Homo sapiens: one gene and its partners. The protein of the gene in region 1 interacts with the protein of each later gene in a biochemical or structural test. Each region holds a gene or a part of one and is shown on either strand. Other genes may lie near its edges.

The links.
Region 2: of the proteins of CSNK1G2 (region 1) and CLSPN, one has a biochemical effect on the other in vitro, tested with the Homo sapiens proteins (one study listed by BioGRID).
Region 3: the proteins of CSNK1G2 (region 1) and PPP1R14A form a complex in vitro, tested with the Homo sapiens proteins (one study listed by BioGRID).

Annotation. Positions count from the first base shown.
Region 1 is NC_000019.10:1,972,155-1,979,176, forward strand, and holds part of CSNK1G2 (casein kinase I), read left to right. Parts: intron 1-2,954; exon of another isoform or gene 2,955-3,917; coding exon of another isoform or gene 3,918-3,960; intron 3,961-6,150; coding exon 6,151-6,191; intron 6,192-6,287; coding exon 6,288-6,357; coding exon of another isoform or gene 6,358-6,447; coding exon 6,448-6,596; intron 6,597-6,704; coding exon 6,705-6,939; intron 6,940-7,008; coding exon 7,009-7,022. UniProt on the Homo sapiens protein: Serine/threonine-protein kinase. Casein kinases are operationally defined by their preferential utilization of acidic proteins such as caseins as substrates. It can phosphorylate a large number of proteins. Participates in Wnt signaling.
Region 2 is NC_000001.11:35,731,960-35,738,981, forward strand, and holds the end of CLSPN (claspin), read right to left. Parts: intron 6,624-7,022; coding exon 6,496-6,623; intron 6,139-6,495; coding exon 6,033-6,138; intron 5,463-6,032; coding exon 5,380-5,462; intron 5,117-5,379; coding exon 4,955-5,116; intron 4,648-4,954; coding exon 4,537-4,647; 3' UTR 153-4,536; downstream 1-152.
Region 3 is NC_000019.10:38,253,356-38,260,842, forward strand, and holds the start of PPP1R14A (protein phosphatase 1 regulatory subunit 14A), read right to left. Parts: upstream 3,020-7,487; 5' UTR 2,985-3,019; coding exon 2,784-2,984; intron 1-2,783. UniProt on the Homo sapiens protein: Inhibitor of PPP1CA. Has over 1000-fold higher inhibitory activity when phosphorylated, creating a molecular switch for regulating the phosphorylation status of PPP1CA substrates and smooth muscle contraction.

The sequences.
Region 1 (7,022 bases):
ATCGTGGTTTCTCAGGGGTGCCGGGAGGCCGTCCATCGGAGGACACACCAGCCCTTCTTCATCTGCTCCCAGCGCAGGGACGCTTGGCTGTTTCTGGATTTGGGCCCTTCTGAATAGAACTAACTGCCCAAATAGAACTGAATAGCACTGGGCTCCTCGAGCACTCCACGTCCCCAGCACTCAGGACTGTTGGTGGCTTTGATGTTGAGCCTGTTGTGGACTCCGGTTGTTGAATGTTGTTCCGTTGTCTAGAATGTTCTAGAATGTGTCGTTTTTTCTGTTTTTAAGGTTTTTATCTTTGATTTAAAATATTGACTATGCTCTCCTTAGATGAGGCTTTCTGTTTTTATCCTGCTTGGGATCCACTGACTTCTTGGATCTCTGTGTTGGTACTTTTTCAAATTAACTTTGGAAAAATGTGAGCCATTATTTCATGAAACGTTTTTCCATCTCAGCTTTGCTTTGCTTTGTTTTGTTTTGTTTTTGAGATGGAGTTTCACTCTTGTTGCCCAGCCTGGAGTGCAGTGGCACCATCTCGGCTCACCACAACCTCTGCCTCTCGGGTTCAAGCAATTCTCTTGCCTCAGCCTCCCGAGTAGCTGGGATTACAGGCGTGAGCCACCATGCCTGGCTAATTTTTTATATTTTTAGTAGAGATGGGGTTTCACCTTGTTGGCCAGGCTGGTCTTGAACTCCTGACCTCAGGTGATCCACCTGCCTCGGCCTCCCAAAGTGCTGGGATTACACATGTGAGTTACCGCGCCTCGCCTGCTTTGTTTTTTTTTTTTTTTGAGACAGAGTCTCGCTCTGTCACCCAGGCTGGAGTGCAGTGGCGTAACCTCAGCTCACTGCAAGCTCTGCCTCCCAGGTTCGTGCCATTCTCCTGCCTCAGTCTCCCAAGTAGCTGGGACTACAGCCGCCCGCCACCACACCCAGCTAATTTTTTGTATTTTTAGTAGAGACGGGGTTTCGCCGTGTTAGCCAGGATGGTCTCCATTTCCTGACCTCGTGATCTGCCCGCCTCGGCCTCCCAAAGTGCTGGGATTACAGGCGTGAGCCACCGCGCCTGGCCTTGCTTTGGTTTTTTGAGACAGAGTCTCACTCTCTTGCCCAGGCTGGAGTGCAGTGGCGCGATCTCGGCTCACTGCAACCTCCGCCTCCTGGGTTCAAGCAATTCTGCCTCAGCCTCCCAAGTAGATGAGATTACAGGTGCCTGCCACCACGCCCAGCTAAATTTTTGTATTTTTAGTAGAGACAGGGTTTTGCCATGTTGGCAAACTCCTGACCTCAGGTGATCTGCCCGCCTTGGCCTCTGAAAGTGCTGGGATTACAGGCGTGGGCCACCATACCCAGCCTTGCTCTCATTCCTGGGTTCTGGTTCTGCGTGTGACAGGAGTGCTTGGCCCTGTCCCCAGGTCCCTCAGCCCTGGCTGTTTTCCGTCTGCCTCTGTGCTCTCCTGGTGTCAGGCTGTGCGGCTGCTGCTGCTGCTGCTTGAAAGTTTACTCTTTTTCTGCAGCCTCCAACCCCAGAAGTCCATGTGGTGAATCTTTGATTGCTTAGTGGCATTTTTCGGTTTCGTCTGATTGTCCATTCGCTCTCAGCTGAGATTTCCCATGTGCACATTCACTTTGGCCATCTTTTCCTTTAAATCTTTGAACATGTTTGTGCTGTTTCTTAGTCCATTTTGTGCTGCTGTAACAGAATGCCACAGACTGGGTCATTTATTTTTATTTATTATTTATTATTTTTTGAGATGGAGTCTTGCTCTGTTGCCCAGGCTGGAGTGCAGTGGTACTATCTTGGCTCACCACAACCTCCGCCTCCCGGGTTCAAGCAATTCTCCTGCCTCAGCCTCCCGAGTAGCTGGGATTACAGGCGCCCGTCACCACACCCAGCTAATTTTTGTATTTTCAGTAGAGACAGGGTTTCACTGTGTGTTGGTTGGCTAGGCTGGTCTCAAACTCCTGACCTCGTGATCTACCTGCCTCAGCCTCCCAAAGTGCTAGGGTTACAGGCATGAGCCACTGCACCTGGCCAGATCATTTATAATGAACAGAAATTGATGGGCTCACCGTTCTGGAGGCTGGTGAGCCCCAGATTGAGGGTGGCGTCTGGCAAAGACCTTCTTGCCATGTCATGGCAAGAAGGCATGGTGGAAGGCAGGACGGCACAGACCGGAGGGGGCTGGATTCGCCCTTTAGTCAGGAACCCACTCCCCTGCTGATGGCATTCACTCATCCACGAGGGCAGCGACTCAGATCCTCTCTCTAGGCCCCAGCCCCAGCCCCAGCAGTGCTGGATTGGGGACCAGGTTCCCAACACATGACCCTTGGGGGGTGCATCAAAGACACAGCACTGTGTGGAGTGACGTCTGTGCTGCTTCTTCCTCCCTTGTCACGGTCACACCTCCCTCACTCACCTGTGGGACAGCCTCACTGGGCGTGGCCGTGGTGTGTGCCGTGAGGTGTGGAGGGTGCCGTCTCCCGGCTTGAGCGCTGAGTTTGTCCCCGTGGCTCACCTTGTTTCTGTCAGGTTGGTTTCAGCGTTGCTGGGGCAAGGCTGAGGGTAAACATGAGCGACTCCAAGGCCAGGGAGCCCTGTGCCAAGGTGTGGACCTTTTGGGTTCTCAGCTGAAGTAGAGAATCCAGGGAGGACCCCGCACTCCGGCCATTGGAGCTGTGGCGTCCTCCCTCCTGTGTGTCCCCCGGAACCTCCTGAGCCTCTCTGGAGCTGTTCTCTGCCAGGCCCCGTGGGCTCTCCTGCCCTCTGCATGCATCGCGAGTACTGCCGGAGGAGGCCCCTTTGGCTTTCAGAGCCCAGAGCGCCCGACCTCCTCCAGGAGTCTGCAGATCCACAGGCCTCAGATGCTGCCACACCCACCCAGCACACACCCAGGTCTCTGACACGCCAGCCGCACACAGCGGTGGGGTTCAGGCGAAGGTTTCTTCCACAGTGCAGAGTAGAAGAGCCGGGAAGGACCCCATCACCATCAGATGCATCAGAGCTTCAAAGGCCCGCCCATCAAGACGCTGCCAAGAGCATGAGGCCAGCCAGGCTGGGGAGGACGTTGGCGAGCATCCGCCTGCCCGTCAGGGAGCCACAGCTGGATGATACATCGACAGACAGCAGAGGGACGGTGTAGCACACAGGCGAGGGCTTGTCCTCCTCAGCCTGGGGGAGCGCAGCTCAGTGCTTGGTGGTCAGCACGTGACTGACACTTTGCCGGAGAAGGGGACGGCTGCCCGCAGGAAGAGCTACACAGCCGTGTTCGCCGGAACTCCGCTCTGGAGAGTCAGAACTGGAGACGGGAGGGCGTGCCTCAAGGGCAGATGGGCAAACCAAACCCCATCCTCCCTGTGAGCCGCGGCACAGCACCAGGCGGGCACACGCAGCACGACACGGCGAGGAGCCCACCGCAGGGGCAGCCTTTTGGGCGGGGAAGGGGGGATGAATCCACTGTGAATCCCACCTCCGAAGGGCAGCGCAGGAAGGACACGCAAATGCTGGACTGAACCTGCAGCTGATTCAGGGGGCAGTGTCCTGAGCTCTAAAACTTCAAACCTGGGGCAGTGTCCTGAGCTCTAAAACTTCGAAATCTGACCAGGCACAGTGGCTCACGCCTGTAATCCCAACACTTTGGGAGGCTGATGTGGGCGGATCACCTGACGTCAGGAGTTCGAGACCAGCCTGGACAACATGGAGAAAGCCCATCTCTAGTAAAAATACAAAAATTAGCCAGGTTGATGGTGCCTGCCTGTAATTCCAGCTACTCAGGAGGCTGAGGCAGGAGAATCGCTTGAACCCAGGAGGCAGAGGTTCCAGTGAGCCGTGATCGCGCCAGTGCACTCCAGCCTGGGCAACAGAACGAGACTCTGCTCCAAAAAGAAAAAAACTTTGAAATCCCTCTAAAAATAAAATGGACCGGTGGATGGTAGCTGTGAGGATGGACCGTGTGGCAGGTTTAGTTCTGGGGCCTCGGCAATGAGTGTTGGGTGTTTGGGGCACGGCTCCTGTTGTTTTACGAGGAGAATTTCCTAATAACGTGTTACACTGGGGAGAACGTAGGAGGGGAGCCCATTTGTTCTGAAAACGCGGGGACCAGCCCTGGTCCCCGGCTCAGGACTGGAGGGGTTGCCCTGGTCCCTGGCTCAGGACTGGAGAGACCAGCCCTGGTCCCGGGCTCAGGGCTGCAGGGAGGCACCTGGTCTTCCCTCGTCCTCACGATCCTGCACCCTCAAGATGCCACGTTGTTGAGGCTGTTTAGGGAACTTGACAAGCTGATTGGAAACTGTGCTGAAATAGAGCCCAGGTAGTGATGCGGACAGGGCAGTGCCAGAAGGAGCCCCAGCGATTCCTGTGCTGCAAGGCACGCCCAGGACGGGGCACTAGCCGGGGGAAGAGGCTCTCAGGGCCCAGGTGGGACCCCAGCCTCAGACTATGAGGTCATGACTGTGTACAGCTCAGCCACCGGGCTTTGGGACTTTGAATCCACCTTAGCAGGGTTTCCAAACCCATTGTCTCCACGGCCACCCTGCCAGTCCAGCTGCAGCAGGGCGGAACAAAGTGGAGGCCTCTTTCTTGCTTTCTTTTTTTTTTTTTTTGAGACAGAGTTTCTCTCTTGTTGCCCAGGCTGGAGTGCAATGGCACCATCTCAGCTCACCACAACCTTCACCTCCCGGGTTCAGGCAATTCTCCTGCCTCAGCCTCCCTGGTAGCTGGGATTACAGGCATGCATCACCATGCCAGGCTAATTTTGTATTTTTAGTAGAGATGGGGTTTCTCCATGTTTGTCAGGCTGGTCTCGAACTCCCGACCTCAGGTGATCCGCCTGCGTCAGCCTCCCAAAGTGCTGGGATTACAGGCATAAGCCACCGTGCCCGGCCACAGAGGCCTCATTCTGCAGCGTATGCTACTCGGGCAAAGGCAGCTGACTGCAGACCCAACACGGTGACCCAGCTGGATGGTGCCTGAGAGACGGGGCTGCCCCACATGGTGCCCTGTCATGCCGCGGGACAGGTCGCCCAGCAGATGGTAGCTATGGCCCCAGTGCCATCCTGGGCTGGAGACACATGGGTGCCAGACACGTTCATGCCTGTCGTCTGGCCCAGCTGCCGTGGGGAGCCCTCCAGGGCCGTGTGCCTGCAGGGACCGGCCTGTTCACCTCTAGGCTCACCCCTCGGGTGCTGAGTCACCACAGTGGGTGGGGCCGTGCCCCCTCCCAGGCCGGCTTCCACAGCTGCCCCTGCAGAGCGCCTCTGTGTTAAGGGCTGGCCGCCTCCTTCCTCAGGGGGTGTAACATGTAAAAAGCTGCACCCTGGCCTGTACAGGGGCTCCCGCCTGTTATCCCAGCCCTGTGGGAGGCTGAGGCAGGCAGATCGCTTGAGCTCAGGAGTTCAAGATCAGCCCGGGCAACTTGGAGAAACCCCGTCTCTACTAAAAATACAAAAATTAGTTGGGTGTGGTGGTGCGCACCTGTAGTCCCAGCTACTTGGGAGGCTGAGATGGGAGGATGGCTTGAGCCTGGGAGACAAAGGCTGCAGTGAACTGCGATCTCGCCACTACACTCCAGACTGGGCAACAGAGCGACACCGTCTCAAAAAAAAAAAAAAAAAAAAGGTTCTGGGCCTCGTACCTTCTGCGCTTTCATGAGACTCAGCCCTGGAAGTCCTATGTGGCTGGTGGCCCCAGGGAACAGGACCTGGGCTCCTCTCTTCTAACCCATGTGGGCCACAGGTCCCTGTCCATCTGTGCTGGGGCTCACCTGGGGGCCGAGGGCCTCGGGCATGTGGGAGATTTGTCTTTGAGAAAGGGGTGGAGGAGTGTGGAGCCCTTGGGGCTGCCTGCAGGCCGTGAGAGACCTCCCCAGTGCCGCTTCTGTCCTGGGCTAGGGAGGTGGGGGGGCGGGGGAGGAGGAGTGGCAGACACTGAGGCGGTGACCACACGGGCAGGGTGCAGGTGTCGGGATGACTTGGCAGGCCATGGTGCAGTGCTCTGGCAGGCTGGGCCCAGGCCCTGCTGCTGGGCAGTGGTGTCATTTGGAGGGTGGTCCTTCAGGGACCCCCTCCTGCCTCCTGCCTCGGGGGTGGGCTGGGGAGGTCGGGGCTAGGTGGGCCCTGCGCTGGCGGTGCTGATGGTCTCTGTCCCCGCAGGAAAGAATCTCTATACAAATGAATACGTGGCTATCAAATTGGTGAGTCGGCCCCTCCACCCCACCCCCGCTGACGTGCCCCCCAGGGATTTCAGGGCAGCGACCCGGTCCCCTGGTGACTCGCTCTTGTGCCCCCAGGAGCCGATCAAGTCCCGGGCCCCGCAGCTGCACCTGGAGTACCGGTTCTACAAGCAGCTCAGCGCCACAGGTACCGGGCGGCCCGCGGGTGGGGCGGGGGCTGCGCAGGGGCAGGGAGGGGGCTGCCGCCGCACGCCCGTGCGTCTGTCCTCCGCCGCAGAGGGCGTCCCTCAGGTCTACTACTTCGGTCCGTGCGGGAAGTACAACGCCATGGTGCTGGAGCTGCTGGGGCCCAGCCTGGAGGACCTGTTCGACCTGTGCGACCGGACCTTCACGCTCAAGACGGTGCTGATGATCGCCATCCAGCTGGTGCGCGGCGGGCGGGGCGGGGCGGGGCTCGGAGGGAAGAGGGTGGCCCTGGAGGGGAGCGCGTGGGACGGGGAGGGGCCCGGCCGACACCGCCGTGCCCCCCTGCAGATCACGCGCATGGAGTATGTGCACACCAAGAGCCTAATCTACCGGGACGTGAAGCCCGAGAACTTCCTGGTGGGCCGCCCGGGGACCAAGCGGCAGCATGCCATCCACATCATCGACTTCGGGCTGGCCAAGGAGTACATCGACCCCGAGACCAAGAAGCACATCCCGTACCGCGAGCACAAGAGCCTGACGGGCACGGCGCGCTACATGAGCATCAACACGCACCTGGGCAAGGGTGAGCTGCGCGCGCGCGGCGGGGGGCGGGCGCCCGGACCCCGCTGAGGCTGCGCCCCTGTCCCCGCAGAGCAGAGCCGCCGC
Region 2 (7,022 bases), on another chromosome or scaffold:
GTGAATTTCTTTTTTCTGGGAGCTACTGGCAATTTCTTATGCTTACAGAGTGGCACTTGACATAATGCACTGACATACATTTTCCAACTGAAGCCCCCCAGCAACTCTGAGACAGCCATGACTTAGTATCCTCATTTTATAAACAGAGGCTCTGAAAGGTGTAGTGTTATTTATTCAAACTGTGGTAGGCACCACTACATTCCAAGCTGTGTGCCAGGCGATGAGTAGGATATAAGGGTAGAAGATACAATACCATCTCAAGGATGACATAATCAAATAGTATCATGGGAACACTCCTCCCAGAAATACTCTCCTCTATCCTTAGGAGCACAAATCCCAGGACAGGATGCCACAAGAGTGATTAGACATAACCCTAGGAGATAAAAACCAAAAACACCCCCTAAAAAGTCTCCCAGCCTGAGCATTAGAAACTCTCAAAGTGAGGAGAAGTTTGTAGAGAAGCAGTTGAGAAAATGAGGGATGCCACAGAGATCTGAGTACCTTGTCTCTAGAGCTTTGGTGAATAAAATCTTATGGTTTATGGAAGAGACCCTAGTATGGCTGTGCAACTGTGAATTAATGAGATGAAATTAGAGACCTGTTTAAAGAGGTTAATACCATGTATCCCTACTCAAGTGTATGGAACAAGGAAGAAACAAAAACACTGACACTGAGCCTACCCTATCTCCCACACTCATGGGCTCTCATCCCTCCAAATATGTAATTTCCAAGCTAGTGAAGCTGAGTCCTCCTCAGAGCCATAGTGGCAGGTCCTGGGGCTTCAATTTCATTAAAACATAACTGATGCTGCTGGCTCAGTGCTTTGGGCAAAGGGCATATGGGTCAGATTGAAACTGTCCATGTCAATCCTGTTACCAAGATCAAGGCTTAGCTTACTTTATAGCAGCCATCCTGGCATAAGGAAAAGTAACCCAGAGTTTGACTCAAGTTTTCTTTCTCCAAAGAGTGCTTTCTCCCAGGAGCCTCAATCAGAAACCATTTTCTTTCTTTCTTTTTTTTTTTGAGAGGGAGTCTCACTCTGTCGCCCATGCTGGAGAGCAGTGGCGTGATCTCGGCTCACTGCAACCTCTGCCTCCCAGGTTCAAGCAATTCTCTTGTCTCAGCCTCCCAAGTAGCTGGGACTACAGGCACCTGCCACCACCAAGCCTGGCTGATTTTTGTATTTTTAGTAGAGACGGGGTTTCACCTTGTTGGTCAGTCTGGTCTCCAACTCCTGACCTTAGGTGATCCAGCTGCCTCAGCCTCCCAAAGTGCTGAGATTACAGGCATAAGCCACCACGCCCAGCCCAGAAACCATTTTCTCCCTGGATTTCTCAGGCACTAATTTTCTTTTTTTTTTCTTTTTTTTTTTTTTTTTAGAGTTGGGATTTCACCATGTTTCCCAGGCTGGTCTCGAACTCCTGAGTTCAAGCAATGCACCCACCTCAGTCTCCTAAAGTGCTGGCGTGAGCCACCGGACCTGGCTGAATTTTCTTATCCTCAGTTGTCAATTCCAATTGTCTTTTCTATCTCTCCTCAAAAGACATGTAGGGAAACAAGAGGGAAGAAATATCTAGCCTTCCTGCTCAGTTCTCTTTTGCCCAGCAAGGGCTACTTTGCCTTGGGAACTGTTTAGAGAGTTCAAAGAAAGAGGCAAAAACATGTATCTTGAACCCATGGATAAAATGAAGTACATACAAACTTAGCTAAAGAGAAAGGCCAATCAAAGCTGTAACAGGCTGGGCATGGTGGCTGAGCCTGTGACCCCAGCATTTTGGGAGGCCAAGGTGGGAGGATTACTTGAGGCCAGGAGTTCAAGATCAGCTGGGGCAACACAGCAAGACCCTGTCTCTACTAAAATAAAATAATTAGCTGGGCATGGTGGCATATGCCTGTAATGTGGCCCAGCTATTCCAAAGGTTGAGGAAGGAGGATGCTGAAGCCCAGGAGTTCAAGGGTACAGTGAGCTATGATTGTGCCACTGCACTCTAACCTGGGCAACAGAATGAGACTGTCTCTAAAAAATAAGTTTTTTAAACAAAGAGCTATAATAGAAGGTACCATTTATGTAAACTCAATTATCCTCTTCACCTGAGCTGAACCCAAACCACTTGGTAAGTTAACTTGATCAATTCACTAGGACTGAGAAGCCAGTGAGGGGACAATTGCAGCAGCTTCTCAGTTTAGACCCAGAGGGTTTCCCTGGGATGGAGATAACCTGAAAATGAAATGCTCCTCAAGGTTAGACAGGCACTGACCCAAGAATGAGCATTCAAGCTGGACAGCAAATCTTCCCTTCAAGGCATTAAGATTTATTGAAAAACTACATACATATTAAAACATCTTTATACACATTTTCCCCATTATAAGATTACAAGTATACAAACATAAGTATTGTCAAAGTCAACATCTTGAGTATTAGAAAACTGTAGAAAACCGGCCGGGTGCGGTGGCTCATGCCTATAATCCCAGCACTTTGGGAGGCCGAGACGGGTGGATCACCTCAGGTCAGGAGTTCAAGACCAGCCTGGCCAACATGGCGAAACCTCATCTCTAATAAAAATACAAAAAATTAGCTGGGAGTGGTGGCAGGTGCCTGTAATCCCTGCTATTTGGGAGGCCGAGGCAGAATTGCTTGAACCTAGGAGGCGGAGGTTGCAGTAAGCCGAGATCATGCCATTGTATTCCAGCCTAGGTGACAGAGCCAGCCTATGTCTCAAAAAAAAAAAAAGAAAAGAAAAGAAAAGAAAAAGAAAAAGAAAAGAAAAGAAAAACTGTAAAAAACCTACAACCTAATTGCATCAATTAAATTGGTGTTCCCATCTCCCAGTAAAAAACTGGCACACTCTCTTCCAACTGCCCAAGTACAGGTCCTGACACTGAAACCACAGTATTCACATGGAATGTTTTTCCAAAGCAGCACTGATGCTCAGTTCTGAGGGGAAAAACATTTGTCTAAAATTCTGAGAAGCTTGTGGTAGTTCAGGGAAAATGGAGAATGATGGCAATTCTCTTCAATAATATTTTTATTAAATTCCATGGTGGCCTTCTCTCAAAATTAGTAATGAAATGCTGAAATGTCCATTGATTAGTGAGGGCAATGTATGTAAGCCAGAAGAATGCAATAAATAAGGGTTATGTTTCTTCTTGTCAGACCCAGAAGGGAGATCTTTGAACAACAGTGCTTCAAATTGAGAATTCAGTCCCAGGAAGGGTCTCTCTGCCCCACAGACTGTGGTGGACAAACACTGGGTGTAACACTTTATCTTCATCCCCAAGCCCCAGAAAATTAGAGGCAGAGTCTTTCTGACTTGGGTACCAGTTTAAGTCCTTATTAAGCAGCAAAAATTAATTCAAAATTTGATGCTGCCTTGGGAAGAAGCATACAGGAAAATGAAAGGGGTAAGAGTAATACAGCAGCCCATCTGTTGGTTCCTAGGTCCTCCATCTAAGAAATCGTTCTTTTGGCTGGGCACAGTGGCTCACGCCTGTAATCTCAGCACTTTGGGAGGCTGAGGCAGCTGGATCACTTGAGGTCAGGAGATCGAGACCAGCCTGGCCAACATGGTGACTCCCTGTCTCCACTAAAAATACAAAAATTAGCCAGGTGTGGTGGCATGCACCTGTAGTCCCAGCTACTTGGGAGGCTGAGACAGGAGAATCACTTGAACCCGGGAGGCAGAGGTTGCCGTGAGCCGAGATTGCGCCACTGCACTCCAGACTGGGCAACAAAGTGAGACTATCTCAAAAAAAAAAAAAGAAATCTTTCTTTCACCGAGCCCTGGTCATCATGGTACGTATCTCATGGGTGTAAAGGAGTCATTATGGTACTGATTTTCACTGTTTAATCTGTAATGTCACACTTTTCCCTACTCTTCCTCTTCCAACCACTTCTATCAATCACAAAGAGATATTAACCCAGAAAGCTGCTACAATAAAATGTCAAATGTCTAATGGAGGAAGTGAAACCTAACCCAAGGCCAGGTGCAGTGACTCATGCATGTGACCAGCACTTTGTGGGGCCGAGGTGGATGGATCATTTGAGGTCAGGAGTTCAAGACCAGCCTGGCCAACATGGTGAAACCCCGTCTCTACTAAAAATACAAAAATTAGCTGGGCGTATTGGCACATGCCTGTAATCCCAGCTACTCGGGAGGCTGAAGGAGGAGAATCGCTTGAACCTGGGAGGCAGAGATTGTGGTGAGCCGAGATCACGCCACTGCACTCCAAGCTGGGCAACAGAGTGAGACTCCCATCTTAAAAAAAAAAAAAAAAAGGAAACCTCACCCAAGTATTCCATGAGTTGTTGATGTTGTAAATACTGCAGAATTGAAATCAGTGGCCAATTCAGGGAATAATACTAGGAAAAGAGATGTCCAGAGCTGTGCAGTAGAAATCACTGGAATTTCTGTCTGCAATCTTATTGCATTGATTATGAAAGAAGGAAGGATCATTGGCTGGAGTGTCAATTCCAACTTTCAGTGCTAGAAACTTCTCAAAGCAGTCTCAATGTAGATTTTGGCACCTTTGATGGTGTTAGCTCTCCAAATATTTGAAGATGCTTCGCGTCAATCCTGAAGTGCTATCATCTGTTTTGAGGTGCTTAGGTGAAGGAGAAGTCATGAAAGATGGACCCCTTTTCTTTACCTAGAGAGCAGAGAGGGAGTCAGGGCCAGCTAAAGACCTTCATACAAGTATTTACCTTCAATTAGCTCTCAAGCAACTCATAAATTGTGGATGATTAACAACAGAAAAAAAGAAAGAAAGATAAACTTTCTCGGCAAGTTTAAAAGTTGATTACCGACTGGGGTAGCAATTCTCTTGTACCTTATCGGGGAGTGCAAGATTTCAACATTGCAGCATAGAGGTTAAGCCAGAATTTTTGTTTTTAAATTTAAATAAATGAATAAATTCTGGTTTGGGAAGCCACCATATTAGTTCTCAAATTCCATACCTGAGACTTAGACGATTCCTTTGCCGCCTCAGCCTTGACAGGAGAAAGTGTATGAAAGACAAAGTTTCTTGAATTTCGAGGAGCACTGGGGTTATGGTCAGAGAGAGCAGCCAGTTTCTGAAGCACAGCTTTGGGCTGGTTTAGCAGTGAGCCTGTCTTCACCTGAGGAAAGAAGAGTCATCTGGTATCAAATCCCAAGTGCCAACTAAAGAATGAAAAGTCCTTCCCTCCCTGCTTCCCCCTAGATATTGAGGGTACATATGCCTACCCTATTCAAATAGAAAAGAAATAGCAGACTCCTTTGACATTAACTTTTTCCCTGCAGCCACCTCCTTCCTCTAATGACAGAGACTATTCTCTAAGCTGGACCTGGGCCTTTATAACCTGTAGACTATGATGTCAGATTAACAAGGTTCCCAACCAACCTGTTGAGCACTTCCTGGTCTGATGGCTTCAAAAGGATTTCTGAGCAAAGACTTTGATTCCTGAATAACCATAGGGCGACTGGCTGGAAAGAAAAGACAGAGAGGCCTATTCTGGGAAAAGCTGATTAGAATTACTTTTAAATCTAAACAAGCTAAGAAATCTTGTAACTAAATCAATATGCTAAAGCCATGGGAACTCTGTTCTATATAATGGTGACTTTCAAACTATAATAATTGGCTCCAAGAAGAGACACAACTAAGTTGAACAGTAATCATTTAAGAAAAACAGAAGTGGTCAGTGTAGGGAATAGTGAAGAGCTTCATTTCTGGAGTTAAATATTCCTGGATTCAAATCCTACCTCTAACACTTAGGTATACAATCCTGGGCAACTAGAGAAAGCCAGAATTAACTACTCTGAGCCTTAGAACATAAAGTAAAACCAGCCACATATACTCATGAATACAGTCTCTACTGCCCAATAGTCTAAGATCTAAGTACACTGTCTCCCACCACCTCTGTGAAGCCTCTTTAAGACAGTATTAGACACAAGCTTATGATTAAGCTGCAACAGCTCCTGAAGGTTAGAGTCACCTCCAAAGCTCTACCACTAACAATCCAGGGGGCTAGACCCTAAGGAGAAACAAGAGCTCACCATTCTTCTGCAGTGCTTTGGCTGTAACTTTCTTGGCCAGTATCATAAACTGACTGTCCTCCCCAATTTCTTCTTCTTCTTCAGCTGTAATTTTCCCCTGCTGTGCCTGAAAAAAAAAAAAAATATATATATATATATATATATATATACAGCATTAAAAGTCTATAACCTTCCTAAATAGTTAGCATGGCCTGGATTGTGAAACTAGAGTTCCTGGGGTATTTGTTTTCCTTTTTGCAGCCTTTGCTGCTTTAGACAAAAAAAAATTAATCTTAGACAAACATGAAGAGAACTGTCTATGGTATAGCCTTCTCAAAACACAAAAGATAGCTCAAGGATTAAAAGAGATAGCAATATGTTGCCTAAGATTTTGAAACTATCATGACAAGCTAAGATTTTGAAACTATCATGACAAGCTAAGGGACAGTCTCATAAACTAGGGTCAGAGTAGGTGAACTCCTACCATGTCCCGAAGCCACTGCTCTCGTTCAATTCGCTCCTTCCTCCACCTGGCTTCTGACTCATCAAGCTGTTCTTCAGTCTGATCATCATCAGAGTCTCTGTGGAACAAGTCCATCTGGGAAGCATCATCTAAACAAAGAGTGAAGGTAATCAGCATTCGGCAGTCCTCACAGGAGAGGGTGCTTGGACAGACAAAAAATAAACCCTTATCATTTACTATATAATGATGTAAACTTTTCCCATCCATTAACAGAAAACAGTTACAACTAGGTCTTCACATAGCCTGTTATAGTTTTGCTTGCCATTTGCCATCTGAAACTCGACAAATATGCATTGTAACTGTTTGCTTTTTTTTTTTTTTTTTTGAGATGGAGTCTCGCTCTGTCGCCCAGGCTGGAGTGCAATGGCATGATCTCTGCTCACTGCAACCTCCGTCTCCCGGGTTCACGCAATTCTCCTGCCTCAGCCTCCTGAGTAGCTGGGATTACAGGCGCGTGCCATCACAGCCTGCTAATTTTTGAACTTTTA
Region 3 (7,487 bases), about 36 Mb from region 1:
CACTAGGTGCAGGGGAGGAGAGGCTGGCAGCCAGCAGCCAGCTGGGGCGGCCCCTTCCCCCAGGGGACAGGAAGGGAGGGGACAGGAAGGGAGGGGACGGCTTGGGCCAGCCCCCAGAGGGCCAAAATGCAGCCTGGTGAGACCGAAGGGAGGACCACCGAGGCCCCTCAAGGTGGGTGGGTGGGATGAGTCATGGCTCAACTCAGCTGCTAAGAGCGGGGCGCTGAGTGTGGCCTCTACAGGCAGTGGCCCAAGCGCAGGCTGGCTCAGTACCCCTGCTGGGAATAGGACCCAGCTGTCCCCAGCTGTCGAGGGAGCAAGAGAGCCTTGGGGTTATGAATCCTTTCCTCCCCAACCCAAAGTCCGGCTGTCGGCTTCAGGCCTGGGGCTTCAGGGCTGGATGGTCCTGGTTCATGTGTGGTGAAGGGGCTTCAGCAAGGACACAGGTGTGTGAGTCTCTGCCAGGGCCACAGCCTGATGCCAAGGGCCTGGGGCTGGCCGAGGATGCAGAGGGACCTGGCATCGTGCAGTGGCTTCGTATAGTGGACTGTGGTCCTGCAGGTGTGAGGTGTGTGGCTCTGGCTTGGGTGTGTGACACATCAGCATGTGTCCACAGTCAGCTGTGGGGCCCACCACCTGAGAATGGCCTCATAGATGCCACCTGCCACTAGCAACCAGATTGGTTCACCTGTATGGGCCCAGGTGTGAGTCTGAGAACAGAGGGACTGCATGTCACCATGGGAGAAGGGCCATGCCTTCCACCATTGTCGCACCATGAAGAGGAGGACTCGTGGGTCCTGTGTACACTGTAGCATACAGAAGTCACAGAAGGCCAGGCGCAGTGGCTCACGCCTGTAATCCTGACATTTTGGGAGGCCGACAAGAGAGAATTGCTTGAGCCTAGGAGTTCAAGATCAGCCTGAGCAACATAGCGAGGCCCCATCTCTTTTTCTTTTTTCTTTTTTTTGAGACAAAGTCTCCTTCTGTCACCTAGGGTGGAGTACAATGGCGCGATCTTGGCTCACTGCAACCTCCGCCTCCCGGGTTCAAGTGATTCTCCTGCCTCAGCCTCCCAAGTAGCTGGGATTACAGCTGCCTGCCACCATGCCCGGCTAATTTTTGTAATTTTAGTAGAGACAGGGTTTCACCATGTTGGCCAGGCTAGTCTCGTACTCCTGACCTCAAGTGATCTGCCCACCTTGGCCTCCCAAAGTTCTGGGATTACAGGCGTGAGCCACTGTGCTCGGCCAATGAGGCCCCACCTCTAAGGAAAAGAAAAAAGAAGTCACTGAAAGTGTGACTTCAAGCAGAAACTCAAGTGATGAAGTACCTGTGTGTGTCAATACATGTAGCTGTGGCTTAGGCTCTTGTGTGCCTGTGAGCAGCGGTGGGTTCTGCAGTTGTATGTCCACCTGTTCCTATAGCTTACAGTTTTTTGTTTGTTTGTTTGTTTTTGAGACGGAGTTTCGCTCTTGTTGCCCAGGCTGGAGGGCAATGGCGGGATCTCGGCTCACCGCAACCTCCTCCTCCCGGGTTCAAGCGATTCTCCTCCCGAGTAGCTGGGATTACAGGCATGTGCCACCACACCCGGCTAATTTTGTATTTTTTAGTAGAGACGGGATTTCTCCATGTTGATCAGGCTGGTCTCAAACTCCTGACCTCAGGTGATCCGCCCGCCTCGGCCTCCCAAAGTGCTGGGATTACAGGCGTGAGCCACCGTGCCCGGTGCTTACACAGTTTTATGTCTGGGTGTAGTTATAAATTCTGTTGGGTTTTGTTTGTTTTTGAGACACGGTCTCGCTCTGTTGCCCAGGCTGGAGTGCAGTGGTGCAATCTTGGCTCACTGTGACCTTGGCCTCTCAGGCTCAAGCAATCCTCCCACCTCAGCCTCCTGAGGAGCTGAGATTACAAGTGCGTGCATGCCACCACGCCCGGCTAAGTTTTAAGATTTTTGGTAGAGACAGGTTTTCCCCATGTTGCCCAGGCTGGTGTTGAACTCCTGACGTCAAGCAATCCTCCTGCCCCGGCCTCACAAAATGCGTGAGCCACTGTGCTGGGCCAATTTCTGTTGTTTTATGTCTTTGAGTGGCTGCGGATCAGCGCTTGTGCTTGAAGGTGGTCAGTTTTTTCTTTAGGAGATAAGGAAGGGCCGTAACTTGAGTCATTTTGTGTTCCAGTGGGGTTGTGCTGTGTCTGCCTACGGCTGTGGCCCATGCCGCTGTGTCTGCGGGTGGCTGTGACTGTAGCATATGTTGAACTGTAGGTGACCCCCCCCCAGCCCCCGCTTGTGTCCTTGTGGGTTTGTGCATGGCTGTTACTTCTGGGCTGTGTCCGTGAGTGGCTATAGCTTCCTTCACTGTGCACATCTGTGTCTGCTTTTGCTTCCTTTGCCGTGGGTCTCTGTGTGGCTGTATCTCCCCTGTCACCATGTCTGTGTTTGGCTTTATGACACCCCCCTTCCCCCACTCTTTCTCCAGACGTGGCGGTTTCAGCTCAACTTAGCCTCCTCCCTCCTCATGCTAAACCCCTGGCCCTCCACAGGCGTTTGGACACATCTCTGGAGACCCAAGTCTTTGTGTGTTGCTCTCGGTGTGTCCACAAGCACAATGCCATAGAGCACGGATGGCCAGGCCAATGAGTGCCCGGCCCTGGGGCGCTCGTCCTCTTGTGCAGACCAGGCTGGCCGTGCACCAGCGAGTGTGCACCGAGACCCCAAGGGCGTGGGGTCTCCGCGCCCGGGCTCTATCTGTCCCCGACCACCCCCGAGCCCTCCCCGGGCTCACCATGCCGCGGTACAGCTCCTCCAGGCGCCCGTCGATCCACTTCTCCACGTCCAGCCGCCGCTGCAGCTCCCGCCGGTCATACTTGACGGTGACGCGCGCGTGCCGCTTCTGCAGCCCCCCGGGACTGCCCCCTGGCCCGCGGGCCCGCGATGGAGACTGCAGCTTGCTCAGCACGCGCTTGCCCAGCCGCTGAGCTGCCATCGCGCTGCTGGACCCAGCCTGGCCCCGCGCTGTGCGCCTTCGCCTCGCGCCCCGGGTGCTTCTTACGGGCCAGGGCGGGGCTAGCCGGGGGCGGGGGCTCGGGCTCGCCGGGAGGTCTGCCCCACCCCGGCCGCCTCAGGCCTCAGTTTCCCCGTCTGCAGTGCGAGAGTAGGCCGCTGCGTCGGCTTGAGGCACGCAGTCGTGCGAAGTTGAGGTATGGGCGGGGACCCAGAGTCCCGGGCGGGTCCCTGCATCGGGGGCTCCCGGGCCGGGATCCTGTGGGGCGGGGGCCTGGGACAGACACTCGGGACCCGGCCTGTCTGCGCCCTCTGGCGGTGGCGGGGTGGGGGGCTGTTGGTGCGGGAGCGCCTGCGCCGCTGTCGCTGTAGAAGGTCGAGCGGTCACTTGTTCCTTCGTTCATTCATTCACTCATCCATCCATTTGTTTGTTCACTCATTCCGTTCAACGAATTTTTTTTTTTTTGAGTCGATGTCTCTCTTTGTCGCCCAGGCTGGAGTACAATGGCGCGATCTCGGCTCACCGCAACGTCCGCCTCCCAGGTTCAAGCGATTCTCCTGCCTCAGCCTCCGAAGTAGCTGGGATTACAGGGATGCACCACAACACCCGGCTAATTTTTGTATTTTTAGTAGAGACGGGATTTCGCCATGTTGGCCAGGCTGGCCTCGAACTCCTGACCTCAAGTGATCTGCCTGCCTCCGCCTCCCAAAGTGCTGGGATTACAGGCGTGAGCCACCGCCACTGGCCCGGTTCAACGAATATCTATTAAGTATCCACTCTATACCAGACACTGCTTTACGCTCCAGGGATAGAGCAGGGAACAAAACAGACAAAACCAGTCCCACGCAGTTGACAGTTGTAGCCGGGATACATGAGAAACACAGTAAGTACGGTATTATACAGTTTATTATCATATAAGTGCTTTGGAGAAATATAAAGCAGAGAAGGAGAAATGGAGTGAGGGTAAGGTTGCAATTTTAGCGAGGGTGGCCAGGGAAGTCCCTTACTTCAAAACAGTCTTCTCACTTCTAATTATAAGCAGCAATAATTATACTCTAAAATTTAAATGTGGCTGGGCGCAGTGGCTCACTCCTGTAATCCCAGAACTTTGGGAGGCCAAGGAGGGTGGATCACGAGGTCAGGAGTTCAAGACCAGCCTGGCCAACATGGTGAAACTCCATCTCTACTAAAAATACAAAAATTAGCTGGGCCTGGTGGCACATGCCTGTAATCCCAGCTACTCGGAAGGCTGAGGCAGGAGAATCGCTTGAACCCGGGAGGTGGAGGTTGCAGTGAGCCAAGATAGCACCATTGCACTCCAGCCTGGGCAACAAGAGCGAGACTCTGTCTCAAAATAAATAAATAAATAAAATAATAATAAATAATTTTTTTAAAAAGGCCAGGCATGGTGGCTCATGCCTGTAATCCCAGCACTTTGAGAGGCCGAGGTGGGCAGATCACGAGGTCTGGAATTCAAGACCAGCCAGGCCAACATGATGAAACCCCATCTTTACTAAAAATACAAAAAAAAAAAAAAAAAAGCCAGGCGTAGTGGTGTGCACCTGTAATTGCAGCTACTGGGGAGGCTGAGGCAGGAAAATTGCTTGAACCCAGGAGGCAGAGATTGCGGTGAGCCAAGATCGCACCACTGCACTCCAGCCTGGGTGACAGAGCAAGACTCCATCTCAAAAAAAAAAAAAAAAATTGTAGAGACAGGGTCTCCCTATGTTGCCTAGGCTGTTCTCCAATTCCTGGGCTCAAGCGATCCTCCCACCTCGGCCTCCCAAGGTGCTGGGATTATAGGCATGAGCCACCTCACTCCACCAGCCAGCCATAATGTAAAACTTTTGAGTTTCAAAGAACATCATCAAGAAAGTGAAGAGACAACCCATGGAATGGGAGGAAAAAAATTGCAGTCATGAAACTCATAAGGTGCTGGGACGAGCCACCACACCTGGCCAAACTATACACTTTAAAAAGGTGAGTTGGGCCAGGCACAGTGACTCACGCCTGTAATCCCAGCACTTTGGGAGGGCAAGGCGGATGGATCATCGGAGGTCAAGAGTTAGAGACCAGCCTGGCCAACATGGTGAAACCCCATCTCCACTAAAAATACAAAAATTAGCTGGGCATGGGGGCACATGCCTATAATCCCAACTACTCAGGAGGCTGAGGCAGGAGAATCGCTTGAACCTGGGAGGGGGATGTTGCAGTGAGCTGAGATCATGCCATTGCACTCCATCCTGGGCAACAAAAGTGAAACTCCATCTCTAAATAAATAAAGGGTGAGTTGTATGGTATGTGAGTTATATCTCAATAAGACTGTGTTTTTTTTTTTTTTTTTTTTTTTTTTTGAGGCAGAATCTCGCTCTGTTGGCCAGGCTGGAGTGCACTGGCATGATCTCAGCTCACTGCAACCTCTGCCTCCCAGGCTCAAGCAATTCTCCTGCCTCAGCCTCCCGAGTAGCTGGGATTACAGGGGTGTGCCACCACGCCTGGCTAATTTTTGTATTTTTAGTAGAAACGGGGTTTCACCATGTTGGCCAGGCTGGTCTTGAACTCCTGACCTCAGGTAATCCACCTGCCTAGGCCTCCCAAAGTGCTGGGATTACAGGCGTGAGCCACCGTGCCCGGCTTCAATAAAGCTGTTTTATTTCAAAATTAAAAACAGGCCAGGCGCCATGGTTCACGTCTGTAATCCCAGCACTTTGGGAGGCTGAGGTGAGTGGATTATCTGAGGTCAGGAGTTTGAGACCAGCCTGACCAACATGGTGAACCCGTCTCTACTAAAAATGCAAAAAAAATTAGCCAAGCATGGTGGTGCACCCCTGTAATCCCAGCTACTCAGGAGGCTGAGGTGGGAGAATTGCTTGAACCTGGGAGGCGGAGGCTGCAGTGAGCTGAGATCGTGCCATCACACTCCAGCCTGGGCGACAGAGAAAGACCCCATCTCTAAAAAAACAAAAATAAAAAACAACTATCCATAGCTACCCATGACCTTCAGTCTAAAGGCCAAACTCTGGTTTAGCAGTCCCATCTCTGCCAGGGACAGTCCCATTTCAGCACCAGCACCTTTCACTCGCAGTTCCCTCTGCCAGGAAGGTTCTTCCCTAGAATATCATCAGGGCTCACTCCTTCACCTCCCTCCAATGTCACTGTTCAGTGAGGTCTTCCCTGGCCACGCTATTTCACACTGCAACTCTCGTGCCCCTCATCCAGCTCTGTTTGATACATAACACTTACCACTTTCTAACATTATATATATATATATATATATATATATTTTTTTTTTTTTTTTTTTTTTTTTTTTTTTTTTTTTGAGTTGGAGTCACCTCAGGCTGGAGTATAGTATTGTGATCATGGCTCACTGCAACCTCTGCCTCCTGGGTTCAAGAGATTCTCCTGCTTCAGCCTCCTGAGTAGCTGGGACTACAGTTATACACCACTGTGTCCGCTTACTTTTTATATTTTCAGTAGAGATGGGGTTTCACCATGTTGGTCAGGCTGGTCTCGAACTCCTGACCTCAGACGATCTGCCCGTCTTGACCTCCCAAAGTGCTGGAATTACAGGCATGAGCCACCATGCCTGGCCTCTAACATTATATATAATGTACTCATTTAATGTATTGTCCATGCCAGGCGTGGTGGCTCACACCTGTAATCTCAGCACTATAGGATGCTGAGGCAGGAGGAGCAATTACATCCAGGAGTTCAAGATCAGCTTGGGCAACATAGTGAGACCCTGTCGCTACAAAAAAAAAAAAAAAAAAAAAAAGCCAGGTGCAATAGTACATGCTTGTAGTCCCAGTTACTCTGGAGGCTGAGTTGGGAGGATCACTTGAGTCCAGGAGATGGAGGACGCAGTGAACTGTGATTGCACCACTGCACTCCAGCCTGGGTGATGGAGTGAGACCCTGTCTCAAAAAGAAAAATGTCATATTTTCTGTTCTGTGCAGTGACAGAAAAAAAAAATTATTGTCTGTTTCCCAACTAGTAGCATACTAAAGGCAGGGGGACAGGACTGGTCCACTTTGGGTACAGGCAAAAAGAGGGTGCACTGTCTGTAGAGAATTTAAAAATAAAAAGCTGACCAAGGCCGGGCATGGTGGCTCATGCCTGTAATCCCAGCACTTTGGGAGGCCAAGGCAGGCAGATCACCTGAGGTCAGGAGTTCAAGACCTGCCTGGCCAACATGGTGAAACCCCATCTCCATAAAAATACAAAAATTAGCCGGGTGTGGTGGTACAAGCCTGTAATCCCAGCTACTTGGGAGACTGAGGCAGGAGAATCGCTTGAACCCGGGAGGTGGAGGTTGCGATGAGCCAAGATCGTGCCATTGCACTGCAGCCTAGGCGACAGACAGAGTGAGACTCCATTTCAAAAAAACTGACCAAAAGTTGGTCTAATTTTTATTTTACTTTGCAGTGACATTTCTAAACAGTGTCAATGATAAAATAGTCCTCCCCAGGGAAGAAACAGAAACAA